Linked DNA regions of Homo sapiens: regions 1, 3 and 4 are each linked to region 2. Evidence: fine-mapped expression QTL. A gene starts in region 2. Each other region holds a variant in brackets. All regions are shown on one strand. Distances are from middle to middle.

Evidence for each region. PIP is the estimated chance that this variant, and not a neighbour inherited with it, causes the effect. A credible set is the group of variants that fine-mapping cannot tell apart.
Region 1: its variant is the best candidate, but not a certain one, in a credible set for the expression of DHTKD1 in whole blood (TOPMed, PIP 0.87).
Region 3: its variant is the best candidate, but not a certain one, in a credible set for the expression of DHTKD1 in monocytes (BLUEPRINT, PIP 0.68).
Region 4: its variant is the best candidate, but not a certain one, in a credible set for the expression of DHTKD1 in whole blood (INTERVAL, PIP 0.61).

Annotation. Positions count from the first base shown.
Region 1 is chr10:12,154,635-12,159,634 of GRCh38, reverse strand. SEC61A2 (SEC61 translocon subunit alpha 2) reads right to left here. Exons shown (of 12, transcript NM_018144.4): 7 at 3,704-3,857; 8 at 2,568-2,728; 9 at 1,530-1,727. Among named protein-coding and RNA genes, the nearest start is that of MIR548AK, 26 kb to the right of the region's middle. The variant G/A (reference allele first, on the strand shown) is at 2,146.
Region 2 is chr10:12,067,076-12,072,075 of GRCh38, reverse strand. It overlaps DHTKD1 (dehydrogenase E1 and transketolase domain containing 1), which reads right to left and starts at 3,122. Exons shown (of 17, transcript NM_018706.7): 1 at 2,889-3,122. The coding sequence starts at 3,042. RefSeq lists silencers at 2,787-2,946, 3,047-3,096.
Region 3 is chr10:12,117,851-12,125,414 of GRCh38, reverse strand. It overlaps DHTKD1 (dehydrogenase E1 and transketolase domain containing 1), which reads right to left. Exons shown (of 17, transcript NM_018706.7): 15 at 6,497-6,666; 16 at 5,148-5,233; 17 at 2,194-4,628. The coding sequence ends at 4,527. Among named protein-coding and RNA genes, the nearest start is that of SEC61A2, 8.0 kb to the left of the region's middle. RefSeq lists enhancers at 2,697-2,786, 3,527-3,576, 3,637-3,776. The variant C/T (reference allele first, on the strand shown) is at 1,953.
Region 4 is chr10:12,140,822-12,145,821 of GRCh38, reverse strand. SEC61A2 (SEC61 translocon subunit alpha 2) reads right to left here. Exons shown (of 12, transcript NM_018144.4): 4 at 2,627-2,705. LOC124902579 (small nucleolar RNA U13) reads right to left here and starts at 159; the gene lies at 56-159. The variant A/T (reference allele first, on the strand shown) is at 2,221.

The DNA.
Region 1 (5,000 bases), 88 kb before region 2:
CACTGTACCTTCAAACTCCTGGGCTCAAGCAATCCTCCCAACTCAGCCTCCCAAGTAGCTAGGACTACAGGCACGTAACACTGTGCCCGGCTAGTTTTTAAGTTTTTTTGTAGAGATGGGGTCTCGCTATGTTGCCCAGACAGGTCTCCAACTCCTGGCCTTCAAGCTATCCTCTCTCCTTGTTCTCCCAAAGTGCTGGGATTACAGATGAGAGCCAACACGCCTGGCTAAAATCTATAATTTTAAGAGGGAAAATACCCCTTTGTTAGGTGACAGAATTTAAACCAATGAAAATTCAGTCCCACAGTAACTCACGCTTCAATAACAGCGTGGCTAGATGGCTTTAGAAAAAATTATGGGCCGAGTGTGGTGGCTCACGCCTGTAATCCCAGCAATTTGGGAGGCTGAGTCGGGCAGATCACAAGGTCAGGAGATCGAGACCATCCTGGCTAACACAGTTAAACCCCGTCTCTACTAAAAATACAAAAAATTAGCTGGGCGTGGTGGCGGGCGCCTGTAGTCCCAGCTACTTGGGAGGCTGAGGCAGGAGAATGGCATGAACCCGGGAGGCGGAGCTTGCAGTGAGCCGAGATCGTACCACTGCACTCCAGCCTGGGCGACACAGCGAGACTCCGTCTCAAAAAAAAAAAAAAGAAAAAAAAATTATGATGGGGGATGTATATGAGAATGTATAGGATTATATTACTAGCAGCACCGCTGTCTCTACCGTCTAGTTAATAGCATGCCTATCTCTAGCCCAGCTCATCACAAGCTGGCTTATTGCCATTCAGACCATGAAAAATGGAGGAGGCCTGGAGGCAGGGTGGGAGATAGGAAAGGTTAGGATGAGTCCAGTATCTCACATGTTAGCAGCAGCAAATAGCATTTTTTGTTTTTATTTTTTGGAGACGGAGTCTCGTTCTGTCGCCCAGGCTGGAGTGCAGTGGCGTGATCTCAGCTCACAGCAACCTCCATCTCCTGGGTTCCAGCAATTCTCCTGACTTGACCTCCTGAATGGTTGGGACTACAAGCACCTGCCACCACACCTGGCTAATTTTTGTATTTTTAGTGGAGACGGGGTTTCACCATGTGGCCAGGCTGGTCTCGAACTCCTGACCTCAGGTGATCCACCCACCTCAGCCTCCCAAAGTCCTGGGATTACAGGAGTGAGCCACCGCACCCAGCCAGCAAATAGCATCTTTTAGAAAGCATTATTGTAGACAATACTGGAATAAGATGACAAAATAGGAAATTACTTTTATGAAATCAACCACAATTTTAGCTTAAAAGGTCATTCAAATGAGATGTGAAAGTGCTTCCTAGAGAGCAAAATAATAAAAAGCGCTTGGGCAATCTTACTTCTGCAACACTTACCAGTTCTTCCAGATAAGTACTAAACTCTGCTATATAGGTAAGTGAATCTGAAAATACAGCAAATGCTCCAATGTCGACCTCATTCCATTAAAAATACAACCATGAAATGCAAATTATAATAAACTATAAATAATGTAAATAAACATAATACTCACGGCCCACTGTCCTAGTAAATTTACTAAAAAGTTGCCACTAAATCGAACAGACAGCATCTGGGAAATAACATACAGGTTGGACACCAGGGCCGACTGGAGGATGATGGGGATGTTGGAGGTGTAGAAGAGTTTGATGGGGTAGCTGCTGTACTGTCCTCGGTAACGGGCCGACTTAATGGGCAGATCAACGCGAAATCCCTAAAAAAGGAAACGGAGAGTAAGTGGGGGAGCCAGACACATTAAGAAAAGAACAGAGACCAGAGAGGGAAAACAAAGAACAGTGCGGGGGATGAAAAGACAATGCCGGCCGGGCACAGGGGCTCAGGCCTGTAATCCCAACACTTTGGGAGGCCGAGGCGGGCAGATCACGAGGTCAGGAGATCGAGACCATCCTGGCCAACGTGGTGAAATCTCATCTCTACTAAAATACAAAAAATTAGCTGGGTGTGGTGATATGCACCTGTAGTCCCAGCTACTCAGGAGGCTGAGACAGGAGAATCGCTTGAACCCAGGAGGCGGAGGTTGCAGTTAGCCGGGATTGCGCCATTGCACTCCAGCCTGGCGACAGAGCAAGACTCCATCTCAAAAAAAAAAAAAAAAAAATTAGCCGGGCGTG[G/A]TGGCACGTGCCTGTCATCTCAGCTACTCAGGAAGCTGAGGCAGGAGAATCACTTGAACTCGGGAAGAGGAGGTTAGAGTGAGCTAAGATCGCGCCACTGCACTCCAGCCTGGGCAACAAGAGCAAAACTCCGTCTCAGGAAAAAAAAAGAAAAGAAAAGACAATGCTAACAAAGACGTTCTGCCTTTTAAACTGTCGAGAGTCTGCTTCCTGCTGATGGGTCAAAACAAAAAACAAAAAAAGTACAGAGACTCCAATATTTCACACCTTAAAATCAGAGTCTGGAGACTCTAATTGCAAAATTTTATTTCCCTTGATCTTAAACCCTGACTTGTTAAACAACAGCATGTCAGATGGCATTCTCTTTAAGAGCAAAATAAAAATCTACATCCCACTTACTTTGGTGAAAAGGTTATACTTACTTGGAAATATATAACAACAGCAAACACAAAAACTGTAGCAATGAGGTTCATGAGATTGGGTAAGTTCTGCCGATAAAAAGCCTCCCGTAAAGCTCGGACTTTGTCCGTCCTGGTGGCCAACAAATGGAACAGAGCTATGACTGCACCCTCAAACTCAGTACCTGTAAAATCAAGACAGACACGACCTGTGGACTCATCGTCCAAAGCTGTCCCAAAGCTCAAACAACTAACCGTGAAAGTCCAGTATACAGCAGAAAATATGGGTCAAAAGAATTCGCCAATGTTTGCTTTATGATATAGCCATGTGAGCAGGTTCTACAAATATTTAGATCATTGAGGCAAATCTATGTTTTTATAGCATAAATCCGAAGTTTTCTCAAGAGACTATTCTTGAAGAAAACATACAACGTAAAATTTACCAAAGCAAAATTTCATTCATAGAGATTTGCCTCTCCTCTACTTCAGGGAAGGGAGAGAGTGTTTTTAGGAAAAATAAACAGCAGCGAAGCAGAGCAGAGATGTCAGAATAAGAGACAGATGTCACTCTATCGAGCCTGCCTCGAAGTTTACCGCACCAAGAACATTAATCATCATTACAGTTTTCTTAAGGCTGGGATCAGAGTTTAGGTATTAACCACTTAGGACAGTATCTGTTAGAAGTGGAGATGAGGAAGGGGAAAGAGAGAATGAAATATTTCAAAACTTTGGTGCTATTACAAAGCCAATTAGAAGAGCAGCAGAGTAGGAGTGCTCCAGGTGGATTCAATGAACAACAGTCTTTTCATTTGAAAAATCTAAAATCCACTACCTTTTTATCCCCCTACGGATGCTGAAATCAGTCAAATAAATGACTTCTGCAGCAATGCCTTAAGCAAGGTTAACAAAAGAAATTTTGAAAATCTGTTTGCAACCACTGAAATTTTAAATAAGCAGAGGCTAAAATTTTGATACTATTCTCTCTGAGGTAGTATTGCTTACTCCACAAATCTCTGCTCATTAAGTTTTGAAGAATTCGCATTCCTTATCCCCTAGGAGAGCAAACCAGAACGGCTCTAGGCATGTACTGCGACACGATGGGTTTGTTCCCAGCACACATCCAGCAAAACGCGTGCAGTTGCAGTCGCTGTGCGATGTACCTCTGCCAGTGTTAATGGTAGTGGGACTAAAGGCCTTCCAGACAATGGTCTCACAGATGTTGGTGGCAATAAAGAGGGAAATCCCAGACCCCAAGCCGTAACCCTTCTGTAGCAGCTCATCTAACAGCAGCACAATCAAACCAGCAACAAACAACTGTGGGGAAAGAAATGCAAGTAAGCGGAAGCAAGAACAAACTCAAGAAAGGGGGAGAGGAACACCATTGGCTATTTCCAAGCTAGGGGCGTTTTGAATATTAAGGCCTGATCGTTGCAATCTCACTGTGATGACCAACTGCATCTTTTGGCCTGCTTTCATTTACTCAGGCCAATCTAGAACAGTAAGAGGACTGGAAATACTGTTGTATTATAAAGCAGACATTTCAACTTTTAAAGTCTATTTACACTTATCTGAATAGTTTCTTTTGCAATGTTTAAATAAAGCCTGTTTGAAAAGCACACTGAAACAAAAAATGATCACAGTATTCTAGAATTTATGACAGCAAGAAACTGAAAACATCCCAAATACCTCCAAGGAAGTAAAAAGTCAGATGAATTCTGGTATAATAGCAAGATGGAAATGTACACTGCCATCAAAGGATAAGTCTAAGGGCTGTGTTGATCCTTTGAAAAAAGCATTATATATATTATATATATGTATACTCTATAAAATGTGTACAGAATAAAAAACTAGAACACAAATATGTACTCAAATACGTACTCGAGCAGCAATGTAAAAATGCATTCTATACACATAGTGACAAAGATTGAATGTAAATTTGAAGACGGTTAAGGTTAAGCTCATATTGTTTTTAAAAATGAAAGCATACTGACTTTAATTTATGGGATATTGAAAATTCTGAACTTGCTTCTTGGAGAAGACATTCCTGTAAAAGTATGCATTAATTAAAAACAGTCCCTAGCCCTTCAAGTGACCTCCTCAGTCATATGACCCCTTCCCTGCACTCAAATAACCTAATCAAGACAGGAAGAAAATATGCTTCCATGCCCCCAACCTCACACATGTCCCCACTTTAAAGACACCCTCCGGCAGAAGTGAGGAAGTCACTTCCATTCCTCCCAGCTCTCAAGCCGCCCACCCTCATTTTGTACTCACTTTATCCAATATCACCTGCTGGAAGAGCGACCAAAGTAACCACATGAGACCATTTTAGGCATGCTTACCTTACACAGTGTTGTTTTTCTCCTTAACTGCCATTTCAGTAGTTGGACAGAGCCTAACTTGTCTATTTACAGGCTTTTAGTCTGAGTTTCAATGGGCAGGAGAAAGGGTACGATT
Region 2 (5,000 bases):
TGAACCCGGCGCACGCTGAAGTGAGCTGTGACTGCACCACTGCACTCCAGACTAGGTGACATAGAAAGATCTCATCTCAAAAAATAAAAATAAAACACGGTAATAGTTTAATATGTTGCCTAACATATAAAGATACTTGATAATTAATGTTACGTTTGCACATACAAAATGCAAATGTACTATATGTCACAAATAAATTGCGTATATAGAACCCTCTTTTCATTCCTTAGGAAGTATAAATTATTTGGGGCTGGACACGGTGGCTCGCGCCTATAATCCCAACACTTTAGGGGGCCGAGGCAAGCATTTCACCTGAGGACAGGAGTTCGAGACCAGCCTGGGCAACATGGCAAGACCCTGTCTCAAGTGATCTGTCTGTCTCGGCCTCCCAAAGTGCGGGGATTACAGGCGTGAGTCACTGTGCCTGGCCCCACGTCTGCACCACACCCAGCTAATTTTTGTATTTTTGCTAGAGACGAGGTTTCACCATGTTGGCCAGGCTAGTTTTGAACTCCTGACCTGGTGATCCGCCCACCTCGGCCTCCCAAAGTGCAGGGATTACAGGCATGAGCCACCGCGCCCGGCCTAATAAATAAAATTTAAAAAATAAAAACTAAAAAGATTTGATGTGAAATATGAGGTGAAAAAGATAAAGGTGGATTGCTCATCTCAGATTACTATACCTCTGTGGCAGAGACTGCTACGATTCCTAACTTCCATTCTGAACCCTCTCTTTGATAGTAATAGAGAGCCCAGTATATGGCCACCCAGAACAAAGAGCCACCTCCCAGCCTTCCCCATAACCTGGTGGCCATGTGACTAAGTTTTGGACAATGGGAACGTAGCAGCAATGTATGCAACTTCTGGGTCATGACCGTAAGGGGAAGGAAAGAAGATATCCCTTCTCTTTGTATATCACAGCACCTGAACTCTTCCAATCTAATACAGAATTTGGTACCAGAGGTGGGTTGCTGCCCTAACAGAGCCTAAAAATATATATGGCATTGGATTAGCAGCCAGGCAATGGGTACCAAGGACACAGGTATTTCCACCTAGAAAGCTGATGGGCAGTGTTATGCTACAGGACAAAACATTTGGTTTTTGTCCTGTAGGACAGGACTGAGGCAGACTACATGCCCTTGAAGCCTGTAGCTCAGGAGCGTATGTTCATTGTATCTTGTCACTTTCAGGAAGGCCCAAGAAGAAAGATGAGGTCAAGTTGGAGCTCCCTAATGAGCAAGTAGACAGGAAGGGGAATTCGGCTCTGCAAAAAGGAGGTTCCCTCTTGGCCAGGCACGGTGGCTCATGCCTGTAATCCCAGCACTTTAGGAGGCCAAGGCCAGTGGATCACTTCAGGTCGGGAGTTCAAGACCAGCCTGGCCAACATGGTGAAACCCCATCTCTACTAAAAATACAAAAATTAGCTGGGCATGGTGGCAGGTGCCTGTAATCCCAGCTACTCGGAACACTGGGGCAGGACAATCGCTTGAACCCAGAAGACAGAGGTTGCAGTGAGCCAAGATCGTGCCACTGCACTCCAGCCTGGGCGACAAAGCCAGACTCCATTTTAGGATTAAAAAAAGAGAGAGAGACAGAGATATGAGGTTTATTTTAAATGCCCTCCGAAGTGAAGAGCAAAATATTGAAGTTCTAGTGTGTGATTGATGGAACATTCCAAGGTCAGGTGCCCAGATGCCGAAGGGGATCTTCAACATTAATCTAATGATCAGATCAAAGATGCCAAATGATTTTCCTCTAATAAGCAATCTGTACTTATCTTCTACTCCGTGAGGATAAATAATGATACAATAATTTTGGAGCGTAAACCAAATACTCAAAATTAGTCTCGCAAATGAGCATGCAACAGAAGTTCCAAAAGCTGATATTCATGACTGTTAATTCATTAAAACCACCAGCACATATCAAGGTGTCAATAGAGTGGCTAAAAGGAAAAGAAAGAAACCCCACCAGCACATAGTTCCAAATTCAGCAGAGTTAAGAGTTAAACTCTGAAATTAAAGTAACAGACTAGCTACAAGGAGACAAATACATAATAAATATCATGCTGTCTTCCAAGACTGGAACTAACTGCCCACTTCTCCCAAGCAATGCAGTCTTGGACCCCCCCACCTGCTCACATAAAAGAAGCCTCAGAGATGGTCCTGGAAATGTATCCTTGGGAGACCTTAAAACTTTACTTCTCCCACAGCTCCGCCTCATTAAAGAGCTGGTTTTCTAGGCTGGGTGCAGTGGCTCAGCCTGTAATCCCAACACATTGGGAGGCCGAGGCTGCAGGATCAGCTTGAGCTCAAGAGTTCAAGACCAGCCTGGGCAACATGGTGGGACCCCATCTCTACTAAAAATGAAAAAAAAAAAAAAAAAAAAAAAAAAGCTGGGCGTGGTCATCCCTCTGTGTCCCCAGCTACTCGGGACGCTGAGGTGGAAGGATAGCCTGAGCCCAGGAGTTCGAGGCTGCAGGGAGCTGTGGTCGCAGCACTGCACTCCAGCCTGGGCCACAGAGCGAGACTCCGTCTCAAAAAAAAAAAAAAAAAAAAAAGGAAACAAAAAGAGAAAGAAAAAAAGAGTTTCTCACACGTTTCCAACAAAGGAAAGAAAAGCCCTTCCGAAACCAGGTCCGGACCAGCAAGATGGGAAGACCACCCAAGCGTGGACCTCAAAGATCCTCAGTTACAGAGGATGGACGGGGGATGACCCCAACACTGAGCACCCACACCTACCCTCTGCTCCCCTCACCTCCCCCTCCTCCCCACCGGCCGCGCGTTCAGGCCGGCAGCCGGTTCCCCGACCCCGACACCCCACCGCAAATCGGCCAGGGGAGGCTTCTGCGTCCCAGCCCCCGCTCCCACCGCCCGGGCCCCATCCCCGACCTGGGGGGCGCTCCAGGGCGCCCTGGGGCTCGCGGCTCTCGGGCTTCCTCGGCCGGTAGCCGTAAACGCCCCGCTCGGTCTGGTAGCCACGCCAGAAGAGAGGGAGAGCCCGGCCGAGGCCCCGTCGTGCTGCTGCCGCAGTAGCAGAGGCCATGTTCACCAGATGTCCCGGCCAGCATGCTAAGGCGGGAGCCCGAGGGGATCCCACCGGCCCTGGTAAATCCGGGACTCGTCAGAGGCGGCCGGAGCCCCGCCCCCAGACAACGCCCCCGCGCCTGATTGGCCGACGGGCCGGACCCTGGAAGCCAATCCGTGGCAGCGGCACTCACAGCGAAGCGACGCCCAGGATTGGGGCGGGCTTCCAGGGCGGTTCCGGCGGCTGAGACCGCCCTGCTCCACCGCAGGGCGGGGCAAGTAAGTGTTCCGCGGGGCGGCACCTGCTCCCAGTACGAAACAGGATGTAGCTGCAGCGCCTGTAGTCTCCCGCCAGGAGTGTTTACCCATCACGCCTCTGCCCAACCGCATAGACACAGTCTAGGGTGTCTGTTACAGAAAGGACAAATTAGCCACAGGGTGGATAGGAAATGGCTAGGACTGAGACCAAGGGACGCAAAAAGCAAAGGTTACTTAGCGCAGCTACAAAATCAATACCCCTAATTTTTTTGTTTTCTTAAGAAACATTAACAGAGGCCGGGCGCGGTGGCTCACGCCTGTAATCCTAACACTTTGGGGGGCCACAGCGGGAGGATCATCTGAGGTCAGGAGTTTGAGACCAACCTGTCCAACATGGCGAAAACCCATCTCTACTAAAAATACAAAAATTAGGTCGGGCGCGGTGGTTCACGCCTGTAATCCCAGCACTTTGGGAGGCCGAGGCGGGCGGATCACCTGAGGTCGGGGGTTCGAGACCAGTCTTACCAACGTGGAGAAACCTCGTCTCTACTAAAAATACAAAATTAGCCAGGCGTAGTGGTGGGTGCCTGTGGTCCCAGCTACTCGGGAGGCTGAGACAGGAAAATCGCTGGAACCCGGGAGGTGGAGGTTGCGGTGAGTTGAGATGGCGCCATTGCACTCCAGCCTGGGCAACAAGAGCGAAACTCCGTCTCAAAAAAAACAGAACAAAAACAAACAAACAAACGAACAAAAAAAAAAAAACAAAACAGGCTGCAGTGGCTCATGCCTGTAATCCCAACACTCTGGGAGGCCCTCTGGGAGGCCAAGGAGGGCGGATCACGAAGTCAGGAGTTCGAGACCATCATGGCTACTATGGTGAAACCCCGTCTCTACTAAAAATACAAAAATTAGCCGAGTGTGGTGGCGGGTGCCTGTAGTCCCAGCTACTCGGGAGGCTGAGGCAGAAGAATCGCTTAAACCCTGGAGGCAGAGGTTGCAGTGAGCCAAGATCGTGCCCACTGCACTCCAGCCTGGGCGACAGAGCGAGACTCTGTCTCACAAACAAACAAAAAACATTAAGAGAGAAAGAAGGAAATAGGGTAAAGGGAGCAGGGAAGAAAGGGATAAGAGTCAAAAGAAACTGGACATGAACGATTAGTTGGTCTGTCTCTGAGTGAGTTTCCCAAATGATTTTTTTTCTGTGGCTTACTTTTAACTTTGCCAGTATGGTAGGAGAGAGAGTCTGCATCCTTACCTGGTTAGTCATCCTTCGTTCCAGTAAGCTGTGCAGCTATACCCCAAACTCCTAGGAATATTATACATACAAGCCCAAGACATCCTCCTTCTTACTCATTCAACCAGTACACTCATAAAGCACTCTGCTGGGTTACAAAGATTAATAAGGCACAGTTTCTGCCCTTAGTTCCCAGTCTAGCTGTAGATAGAACTCAGCACACAGGATGATAGATTATATAATGTAGGCACATGTAAGTGCCCCCTGCAAGCACAGGAGCGTCATCCAGCACAGCTACTGTAGCTGGGACCCCTTAGGTCCACACTTTGGTGGCCTCCCCATCTTGCTAGTTTGGACCTGGTTTTGCAAGGGCTTGTCTTTTTTTTCCTTTTTTTTTTTTTTTTTTTTTTTTGAGACGGAGTCTCGCTCTGTCGCCCAGGCTGGAATGCAGTAGGGCAATCTCGGCTCACTGCAACCTCCATCTC
Region 3 (7,564 bases), 52 kb before region 2:
GCATCCGCTACCACGCCCGGCTAATTTTTTGTATTTTTAGTAGAGACAGGGTTTCACCCTCTTGGCCAGGCTGGTCTCAAACTCCTGAGCTCAGGTGATCCACCCGCCTTGGCCTCCCAAGGGGCTGGGATTACAGGCATGAGCTACCGCGCCTGGCCAAAATCCACTTTTTAAGCTCCCATGTGAGTGAGAATATCCAAGTTTTGTCTTTCTGTGCTTGACTTACTTCACGTAACATGATGACTTCCAGTTCCATCCATGTTGCTACAAATGACAAGATTTTATTTTTTTTAAATGGCTGAATAATATTCCATGGTGTATATGTAACTTATTTTCTTTAATATCCAAATACATATAAGAAAAATGTAGGTGAAGCTTTTGGAACCTAAAGACTCAACAGTCTTGATCCTTAATCTGTGACTTCCTTCCAGTGTAATCTTTTTTTTTTTTTTTTTGGGCGGGGTAACCCTTTCATTTCTTCAATTTTGTAAAAGGGCCAGGTGTGGTGGCTCACGCCTGTAATCTCAGCACTTTAAGAGGCCAAAGCGGCCTAACGCTGACACAGAATCACTTGAACTAGAAAGGCGGAGGTTGCAGTGAGCCAGGATCGCACCACTGCCCTCCAGCCTGGGCCACAGAGCGAGATTTGGTCTCAAAAGAAAAAAAGAAAACCTTAGTAACTTTATACTTGTATCTTATTTATATCTATTATTTATATCTATCTATGCCATTTTAATGTTCAATGAGGACTAAACCTTAAATTGGGTATTCAAGAAGTAGAAATAGTAGCAACCATGGAAAAATGTTAGTTTTGTCTGAAATGACAAATTATTCTTAGTAAAATAAAAAATTTTTTAGTGAGAATAATAACTATTTTGCTTAGCTTTTCTGTGTCTTGCATACACATGCTATTTGGGAAAAATACTATGAAGCTTAGACATCTTTAGACTGACTATATTACCTTTGAAATTTTATTATTTTTTAATAATTCCTTGGTTGACAATAAAAATACTATCCCTTTTACACTTTTTTTTTTTTTTTTTGAGATGGAGTCTTGCTCTGTTGCCCATGCTGGAGTAGTTCAAGTGATTTCCTGCCTCAGCCTCTCAAGTAGCTGGGACTACAAGCATGCGCAACAACGCCTGGCTGATCTTTGTATTTTTTAGTAGAAACAGGCTTTCACCAGGTTGGCCACACTGGTCTCAAACTCCTGACCTCAGGTGATCTGCCCACCTTAGCCTCCCAAAGTGCCGGGATTACAAGCATGAGCCACCACGCCTGGCCTACTAAATTTTTAAGGGAAAAAAAGTAATGAGTATTTGATTTGGAATTCCTCAAATGGTCCCTCCCTGCAAGGGAATGTAAAATGCTGATCCATGTTGCAGTAGTGATTGAGAGTAGAAAGGTTAAGCCAACAGAAGACACATTTCATGACTCGAGTTAGAGAAGACATAAAAAGAAACCATGAACAGACTGTGAGGTGTAAAATTAGAAATTTGGAGAGATCCACCAGTCACAGTGGCTCACGCCTGTAAACCCAGCACTTTGGGAGGCCAAGGTGGGCGGATCATGAGGTCAGGAGATCAAGGCCATCCTAGCTAACATGGTGAAACGCCATCTCTGCTAAAAATACAAAAAACTGGCTGTGGCACGTACCTGTAGTCCCAGCTACTCGGGAGGCTGAGGCAGGAAAATCTTTTGAACCCAGGAGGTGGAGGTTGCAGTGAGCTGAGATCGCACCACTCCAGCCTGGGCGACAAAGTGAGACTCTGTCTCAAAAGAAATTCGGAGAGATTTAAAGTAACCTTTTATTTTTTGAGACAGAGTCCCGCTCTGTCACCCAGGCTGGAGTACAGTGGTGCAATCTCGGCTCACTGCAACCTCCGCCTCCCGAGATCAAGTGATTCTCCTGCCTCAGCCTCCCAAGTAGCTGGGATTACAGGCATGCACCA[C/T]CATGCCCTGCTAATTTTTATATTTTTAGTAAGAGACGGGGTTTAGCCATGTTGGCCAGGCTAGTCTCGAATGCCTGACCTCAGGTGATGCACCCATCTTGACCTCCCACAGTGCTGTGATTACAGGCGTGAGCTACCACGCCCAGCCTAAACTAACCTTTTACAAAGATCTAATCTTCCATCTCATTTTTGTGCTTAGACTTTTGAAATCTTTTAATTCAAGAAGTCCAGGAGTCCTGAGGAAAAAAAATGACAATGTGCTTTTATTTTTTTTCTTGTTAAAAAAAAACAACATTGGTAAATCGTTTTCATTAAATAGACCTTTGTGATTTTACTGATTTACATGAGTGGCACTAAATTACATGATTTATAAGGCTTGACACAGGAAGGATACACTGAGGTATATGGTAAGAAAAGGGATATGAATACTAGAGAAATGTTAAATTGATAACTAAGGCACACTTTCGGATGTGAATCATAAATCTACCACTGTGGCTAGAACAGCCTATATGTACATGGATTCTGAAAGACATGATCAGTTGCTGGTAAAAGTAGAGAGGGCCTGGGCTTCTGCCAGTCCCCTGGTACTTCCCACACCACTTCAGAGAAAAAGCATCATGACACAAGCACAGTAGATGGTAGAGGCCCCCAGCACTGAGTCAGGTGAAGCTACATGGTTCGCTGTTTAGTTACGTTTCCAGTACTTGGTTTAATTTCACAGTGAGGGAGTCGGTTGGTGATCTCTAAGAAATCCCCAAGCACCTGGTGTTGGGAAAGTCCCTCAAATAAAGAAGTGTTCTTTTCTTTTTTTTTCCTCTCTCTCTCTTTCTATTTATTTATTTTTTGAGATGGAGTCTTGCTCTGTCACCCAGACTGGAGTGCAGTGGCAGGATCTCAGCTCACTGCAACCTCCACCTCCTGGGTTCAAGCGATTCTCCTGCCTCAGCCTCCCGAATAGCTGGGATTACAGACACCCACCACCACGCCCAGCTAATTTTTGTATTTTTAGTAGAGACGGGGTTTCACTATGTTTTGTCAGGCTGGTCTCGAACTCCCAACCTCAGGTGATCCACCCATCTCAGCCTCCCAAAGTGCTGAGATTACAGGCGCAAGCCGCAGCGCCCAGCCAAGAAATGTTCTTTAAACATCACAAATAAACATACTGCATCAGGGACTTGTAGGGACAAGACTGATTAACCAGGGGCTGAAATCCCCATATCAGAAACCCCAGACAGTTAAAAATAGTAAGATATCACTGTAAGAACAATTTAAAGAAAAACAAGTTTACGGCAAAACAGACTACAAATCAATTTCATTATAACTAAAACTCCTTAATTTAAAAATACAGTACTAGAAGATCATCCACCCAGAGATTTGTATTTAGTAGGACCTAGATTTGCTAGTGTTGGGGAGACACTTCATACAGTGACTGGAAAGCAGCACCAGAGATTACATAAAATGAAAATATTAGTACTGCCACAGGACTTTCAAAAAGGAGGGGGAAAATTAATGAAAGTGACATGCATCAAACAAATCAAGAGGCAGTGTTGAGGTCATCTCCACGGAGCTGTAAACTCAGAAGTGTTTCCTGGTCATATATGGTCAATTAGGGTCAAGTCTGAAATCATCTAGATAATGACCTAGTTTTCCAGCTCACTCAGAGCTAAAATCCATAACACTATCATACTTTCCTTTTAATTTATGAGATGGAGTCTTGCTCTGTCGCCCAGGTTGGAGTACAGTGGCGCCATTTCGGCTCACTGCAACCTCTGCCTTCCAGGTTCAAGCAATTCTCCTGCCTCAGCCTCCGGAGTAGCTGAGACTACAAGCGCATGCCACCACACCCAACTAATTTTCATATTTTTAGTAGAAACGGCGTTTCACCACGTTGACCAGGCTGGTCTTGAACTCCTGACCTCAGGTGATCCAGCCGCCTAAGCCTCCCAAAGTGCTGGGATTACAGGCGTGAGCCACTGCACCCAGCCATCACACTTTCTTTTTTTGTTATTGTTTTTCTTTTGTTGTTTTCCTATTTCTACCATCACACCTTCAAGGATAAATTTGCTGGTTGCATTCACATATTCATAACCAGTTCCCCTGGTTATTCCACCTATTGCAGATTAAATCACGTATATCAATCCCAACATCTTAGAGGAATACAGTCTTTTCATGTTACCCAACAGAGGGGTTGAGAGAGTGGAGGAAGGAGGCCTCTTTTAATGGGTTTTTTTTTTTTTTTTTTTGAAACGCAGTCTTGCTCTGTCACCCAGGCTGGACAGCAATGGTGTGATCCTGGCTCACTGCAACCTCCGCCTCCCAGATTCAAGCGATTCTCTTGCCTCAGCCTCCCAGGAAGCTGGGATCACAGGTGCCCACCACCACACCCGGCTATTTTTTGTATTTTTAGTAGAGGCGGGGTTTCACCGTGTTGGCCAGGCTGGTCTCGAACTCCTGACCTCAGGTGATCCACCAGCCTTGGCCTCCCAAAGTGCTGGGATTACAGGCATGTGCCACCCCACCCGGCCTTAATGGCCATTTTCTTAAAGAGAAATAGTGTTTCTTCAAAAGTCATCATCAAGCGAAGGTCTTGGCGAGGATATCTTCATGCTGGTGCAAGTGAACTGTGCCAATTCCTACAGCGGGTACTGGCAAAGGGGGCCGGCCCACCAGACGGAGCTATAAGTGCAGCAGAGAAGAAATAAAATGACATTTTGACTAGATCAGAGCTCTGCTTAGTTCCAACAAGACAGTGCATGTATTTCTCTTAGCTTGTTTAACCATAAATCACCTCTTTCAAATAATGAGTTACGCAGAAGAGATTAGAGGGACAGGGCTCCGTGCCTCAATGCCTGTAATCCCAGCGCTTTGGGAGGCCGAGGTGGGCGGATCACGAGGTCAGGAGATTGAGACTATCCTGGCTAACATGGTGAAACCCCGTCTCTACTAAAAATACAAAAAAAATTTAGCTGGGTGTGGTGGCGGGCGCCTGTAGTCCCAGCTACTTGGGAGGCTGAGGCAGGAGAATGGCGTGAACCCGGGGGGCGGAGCTTGCAGTGAGCTGAGATTGCGCCACTGCACTCCAGCCTGGGCAACAGAGTGAGACTCTGTCTCAAAAAAAAAAAAGAAAGAAAGAAAGAAAAGAAAAACAACATGCACACAAAACACAAAACACTACCAGAGAAAACGTGTGATTACCTTGCAGGCCAGCTGCTTTTCAAACCTTGGAGAAACAAACGACCACGGACCCATGTTCTGAGGTTCCTCCTGACTCCAAATATGATCTATGAGAGAAGAAATTCTTTCAGCACCTCAAGTAGACACATGCAGACGGTCCCCAATTTACTATGATCCCACCTACGATGGAGTTTTCAACTTTACGATGGTGTGAAAGGGATTCACATTCACTAGAAACTGTACTTCAAGTACCCATACAACAGTTCTGTTTTTCACTGTTGGTACAGTATTCGATAAATTATCTGAGATATTCAACACTTCATTATGAAATGTAATAGATTTTGTGTTAAATGATTGTGCCCAACGATAAGCTAATGTGAGTGTTCTGAGCATGTTTAAGGCAGGCTAGGCTAAGCTGTGTTTTGTAGTTTAGGTGTATTCAATGCATTTTCTTTTTTCTTTTTTAAGTTCTGGGGTACACATGCAGGATGTGCAGGTTTGTTATGCAGGTAAATGTGTGCCACGGAGGTTTGCTCCTCAGATCATCCATCACCTAGGTATTAACCCAGCATCCATTAGCTGTTCTGCCTGATGCTCTCCCTCCTCCCCCATGACCCTCGGACAGGCCCCATATATGTACCAAATTTTCTTTCTTTTTTTTTTTTTTTTTTTTGAGACGGAGTCTCGCTCTGTCGCCCAGGCTGGAGTGCAGTAGCGCAATCTCGGCTCACTGCAAGCTCCGCCTCCCGGGTTCACGCCATTCTCCTGCGTCAGCCTCCCAAGTAGCTGGGACTACAGGCGCCCGCCACCACGCCCGGCTAATTTTTTTGTATTTTCAGTAGAGACGGGGTTTCACTGTGTTAGCCAGGATGGTCTTGATCTCCTGACCTCGTGATCCGCCCACCTCGGCCTCCCAAAGTGCTGGGACTACAGGCGTGAGGCACCGCGCCCCGCCTGTACCAAATTTTCATGTTTTTGTGTCTTTTTTTGACACAGAGTCTTGTGCCCAGGCTGGAGTGCAGTGGCACAATCTCGGCTCACTGCAACCTCCGTCTCCCAGGTTCAAGCAATTCTTCTGCCTCAGGCTCCCAAGGAGCTGGGACTACAGGCGCCCGCCACCACGCCCGGCTAATTTTTTGTACTTTTAGTAGAGACGGGGGTTCACCGTGTTAGCCAGGATGGTCTCAATCTCCTGACCTTGTGATCCACCCACCTCAGCTTCCCAAAGTGCCAGGATTACAGGTGTGAGCCACCGCGCCCGGCCCAAGATTCAATTTTCTAATAACCCCCACCACATCTTTTCATTTAAAAGAGCTGAAATGGGTTTTGGGTATCTGAACATCAAAACCCAAATGAGAACAACCTCTTACCTTTAACATGTTTGTATTTGCTCATCTCTTGCTGTAAAGAATCCAACGGGAAGGGGCAGAGTTCCTCTACTCGGATGATGGCAAAGTCATGCTTCTTGGCCCCCAGAGATTCTCTTTGTTTCACCAGGGAGTAGAAATGTTTGCCGGAGCAGAACACGAGGGTCTTAACCCTGTTGGACAGAAAAGGAACAATAGGGTGGGGGAGAAATTTTTTAAAGTAAGAATTACGTCAGAAGAGGCCAGGTGCAGTAGCTCACGCCTGTAATCTCAGCACTTTGGGAGGCCAAGGCGGGCGGATCACGAGGTCAGGAAATCAAGACCATCCTGGCTAACACGGTGAAACCCTGTCTCTACTAAAAATACAAAAAATTAGCCGGGCGTACTGGCGGGCACCTGTAGTCCCAGCTACTCGGGAGGCTAAGGCAGGAGAATGGCGTGAACCCGGGAGGCGGAGCTTGCAGTGAGCCAAGATCGTGCCACTGCACTCCAGCCTGGGCGACAGAGCAAGACTCAACCTCAAAAAAAAAAAAAAAGAGAATTATGTCAGAAGAAACGGGAGACAGTGCAGATTTAAAGTCCTCATGAACAAGGTGGTGGGGGTCTCTGCAGCCGAGTTCAGTCACAGGCTATTCCTGGGGACCCTTCTTCAGCAACATGCGCCTACAAAGTCCACTTTCCCACCCACACTTAACTCATACTCCACTGACTTAAAGGACTTAGGATAGAGGAGGCCAGGCATGGTGGCTCACGCCTGCAATCCCAGCACTTTCAGAGGCTGAGGTGGGTGGATAACCTGAGGTCAGGAGTTCGAGACCAGCCTGGCCAACATGGTGAAACCCCATCTCTACTAAAAATAAAAAAATTAGCAGGGTGTGGTGGCGGGCACCTGTAATCCCAGCTACTTGGGAGGCTGAAGCACAAGAATCACTTGAATCCGGGAGGCGGAGGTTGCATAGAGCTGAGATTGCACCACTGCCCTCCAGCCTGGGCAATAGAGCCAGACTCAGTCTCAAAAATAAATAAATAAATAAATAAATAAATAAATAAATAAATAAAAATAGGAGAGGG
Region 4 (5,000 bases), 74 kb before region 2:
TATTCCTTAATTTTTCTCCTTTATTTAAAACAATGTTTTTTCTTTTTTCTTTTCATGTCAGATGGGTAATGTTCCAACATCCTAACAAGGCTGGAGAGAGGCACATCTCACACACGAGCGTGAAGATCCAATCATCACATCTACGGACTACGAAAGCATCTAGTTTCCTATTACTTACAACAAAAGGAATCTAACACACTAATAAAACTCCACTTATAGAAGAAATACAAATGTTCCATAAAAACAGAAAACAATGTTCAAACTCACCAATCTATAAAGAAATCAAAATTAAATAACTGATGCCAGCTTTTACCTCTCTGACTAACAAAGACTAAAATACTAATAATATCCACTGTTGAAAGAGAAATGGTCATTCTCATATACTGTCGCTGAGAGTGTAAAATCAAACAACTGTTTTGGAAGATAATTTAGCTTTCTCTATCAAAAATTTCAGTATGCCTATCTTGTGACCCAACAGTTGAACTTCTAGAAATTCATTCTATCAAAAAGTTACAGAACGGTGTGATAGCCTTCATTGTAGCATTCTTTATAATGATATAAAATCGGGGGGAAAAAAACGTAATATATGACAAGAAAGGAACCTAGTGGCCTGCAGAAGTTTCCCATCTTCCTTAAAATGTGCTCCATCCAACGGTCTCCAAGCCCTTCATGATCTGACTTAGATACATCTGCAACATCAGGTCCCATCACTCCTCCCTCTTCTTTCATTTCTTCCACCCCACACTCACCTCCTCAATGTTCCTTTTTTTTTTGAGACAGGGTCTGGTTGTGTCGCCCCGGCTAGAGTGCAGTGGCGTGATCTCGGCTCACTGCAATCTCTTCCTCCCAGGCTCAAGCCATCCTCCCACCTCAGCCTCCCAAGTAGCTGGGACCACAGTACACACGACCACACCTGGCTAATTTTTGTGATTTTAGTAGAGATGGGGTCTCACTTTGTTGCCTAGGCTGGTCTGGACTCCTGACCTCAAGTGATCTTCCCGCTTCAGCCTCCCAAAGTGTTGGGATCACAGGCATGAGCCCCTGCGCCTGGCCCCTCCTCAATGATCTTTGAACACACCAAGCACAGGCTCACCTCAGGGCCTTTGCACTGGCTCTTCCCTAGAATATGCCTCCCTCAGGTCTTCATGTGGCCTCCTCTCTCACTTCCTGCAGCTGTCTTCAAAGATCACCTTCCTAGAGCACCTTCCCCACCCCAGGTACCTCCCCAAACAGCAAATATCAACTCCATGACAACTGGGACATTGTCTTGTTCACTGCTCTAATCTCGGCACCTTGCACAAAGGCTGACACACAATATGAACTCAGTAAGTATTTGTTGAATGAATGATCAAATAAATCACAGCGTATCCTTATAATGGAATAATAACATGGCCATTAATAGCTCATGTAAGATATTAAGTAAACAAAGTAGCAGAATAGTATATACAGGACATCTTACTTTTCAGTTATAAGAAGTATATAGATATATGTAAGTGAATGTATGTGCAAAGAAAAGGCCTCAATTGATAGTCACCAATCTACCAAATCCTCCAGAGCTCCCCTCAGAAGTGACACTTTTCTTTTCAGCTTCATATAAATCTGTATATAAATTGCTAGTGCATTTTTAAAATAATAAATCAATATTACCTTTATAACCTAAAAACATCAAAAAAAAATCTGCCATCGATTTAAAGTATGTCCAGGCTGGGTGCAGTGGCTCACACCTGTAATCCCAGCACTTTGAGGGAGGATGGCATGAACCCAGGAGTTCAAGACCAGCCTAGGCAACATGGCAAAACCTCACCTCTACAAAACTACAAAAATTAGCCAGGCATTGTGGCACGCACCAGTAGTCCCAGCTACTCAGGAGGCTGAAGTGGGAGGATCGCCTGAAAAAAGTGTTTCCAAAAAAGAGGCAACCACTGTTCCTAAATGTAAGAAACCTCACGACTGGTTGTACCCCTTGCTACTCTCACTGTCCAGCATCCTCAGCCACAATTTCCCAGATGAACAATGCTGCTTGAGGCTTCAGGCTCAGCTCCAGCTGAGCTCCCCGATTGGCTCACACACTGGACTCCCTTTTTTTTTGGAGGCAGAGTCTTACTCTGTTACCCAGGCTGGATTGCAGTGGTGCGATCTTAGTTCACTGCAACCTCCATCTCCCAGGTTCAAGCGATTCTCTTACCTCAGCCTCCTGAGTAGCTGGGATTACAGGTGCAT[A/T]CCCACACCTGGCTAATTTTTCTATTTTTAGTAGAGACGGGGTTTCACCATGTTGGCCAGGCTGGTCTCAAACTCCTGACCTCAGGTGATCTGCCCACCTTGGCCTCCCAAAGTGCTGGGATTACAGGGGTGAGCCACGGCGCCCCACCTGGACTCCAATTCCAATGTTATCTGGACATCACCTTCTTTGACACTGAAGATCAGGGTTTTCCAGTCCATGAAAACCCAAGAACAGATTTCTCTATGATTACATTAATCACACGGTGTTGTCATTATCTACATACTAGGCTTTTCTAGGCAATGATATCCTCCCCCTCCCTGTAGACATTGAAAACTCATTGCTAATCCACATGTTTCCATCTGTTTGCTGTGAGTAGGAGTGTGGAGACAGAAAAGACACGCATACCTCTATTGGAAGCCAGAATAACTCTCATCCAGTAGAAAGGATCTGCAGAATCTGATGACATGATTCCAAACAGTGGGATCTAAAATAGTACACAAAATAGTTTATGAAACTGTATTATATAAGGCTGAGGCATAAGAATCGCTTGAACCCAGGAGGCAAAGGCTGCAGTGAGCTGAGATCACGCCACTGCACTCCAGCCTGGGTGACAGGAGACTCTGTCTCAAAAAAAAAAAGTATAAAGTGTGCACTTAATTTACAAGGTATTCACTTACTGCTTGCAATACTTTTTTAAAAACTATTCTTATGTTCTTCAACAAAAACAAGCATATCTTCAAGGTAAAGCTGTTTATTAAAAAGAAAATAAAAAGAAAAACATTCCATCACATAGATAAGGGTTAATAAAAAAAATAATTAAAAGAACCAGAAAGTGAAAATAAAAATAAAAACAACAAATCATCACTTGGTGCATTCACTAGTAAATACATCGCTTATGGAGTGTGGTGGTACAACAATGTGAACATTCCTAATGTTACTAAACTGCACATCTAAAAATGATGAAGATGGCATATTTTCTATACTTTTACCACAATTTAAAAAACACTCCCACCAGTAGATTATGGAATATTATACCTGCCTGGTCGTAGAATGATTTTGCAAAGCTCTATATACTAAAGACAGCCAAGGTCACTCTTCTCAATGTAAGACTGAAGATGATATCCACAATGGAATATTACATGGCCACTAAAAATTATGCTTACTCAATCTGTAATAACATGGAAGAAGTACTTATGTCATAAAACTAAATATAAAATAGCAGTTCTAAACTAGGGGTGATTTTAGCCCCCACCCAAGACATTTGGCAATATCTAGAGACATTTTTGGTTGCCACAACTAGGGGCCAAGGTGGAGACCAAAGTGACTCCATCTTGGATGCTAATCTACCATGTTGACTTCTGCTCAACCCTGGTCTCAGGGATACCTCCTGATTCCTGCTTTATTTACAGTCCTTAGTGTAAGAACATGTACTCGCCATAAATCCTGCCCTGAGATCCAAGCAACGTTGATGCTATTACACAAATAACAGGCTGTGACACACAGCATTCTTGCATGTTCTGGAAAGCTGCCTTCAACTGTCCTGCACAAAGCACATACACCCCTTCCCTATGATAGATTAGCCCTGGGTCTGGGAGTAAGAATGCAGGCCTTTCCCTGTCTTACTGCTGCCCCAAACTATGCTTCTGTCTGTAAAATCACCCTCTACTGACAAACTGGATTTGTCTCCCTCATTCATTGGTTTCGCAGCTCCTTCAGTGTTTGCGGGTCATTTTGCATATATGGCCCTTTCACAGAACAGGGGGTGATGGCTAGTAGAGGCCAGAGTGCTGCTGAACATCCTGAAATACACAGGACAGACCCCTGGGGCAAGGAATCATCCTACCTCAAATTCAGGAGTGCGACTGTTAAGAAGCCCTAGTATAAAAACGAAGTACGAAAGTGTATATATAAACTATGACACTGTAAATAGATGCACAGAAAATCAAACTAGGAGGAGATATCTTTTTAAATCCTAAACAGCAATTATCTGTAGATGGTGGGATTATGGTTGACTTTTTCTTCTGTATTCTTTTCATATGTATCAAATTTTCCATAATGAGGACATTAACTTTTCATTAAAACAACAACAAAAAACAACTTAAGTTCAGATTGCTTCCTATTATATAACCCATATTTAGGATACAGCACTTGGCCTTAACCCCTCCTTAACCATGTGGGGATTAGACAAAGACATTTCAAAAACCTTCTCTATATGAAACTGATTTTTAAGAAAGTTACAAAAGATGCTGGCAGCAATTTTAAACAACTCACCTGGTCAACCTAAACCTCCCTGAAAGTCTGAATTTATCAGCTGGGTAATAAAACTGGTAAAGCATGAAACATGGATATTTTATGTGCACCTGGCAGCTGTAGACACTCTTCATTTAAAGTGAGAGGTGAGGGCCAGGCACGATGGCTCAGGCCTGTAACACCAGTATCTTGGGAGTCCAACGTGGGCACATCACTTGAGGCTAGGAGTTCAAGACCAGCCTGGCCGACATGGTGAAACCCCATCTCTACTAAAAATACAAAAATTAGCAGGGAGTGGCGGCTCGTGCCTGTAATCCCAGCTACTCAGGAGGCGGAGGTAGGAGAATCGCTTGAACCTGGGAGGCAGAGGTTGCAGTGAGCAGACATCGTGCCACTGAACTCCAGCCTGGGCGACAAAACAAGACTCCATCTCAAAAAACAAAACAAAAACAGCTGGGAGTGGTGGCTCACACCTGTAATCCCAGCACTTTGGGAGGTCGAGATGGGTGGATCATGAGGTCAGGAAATC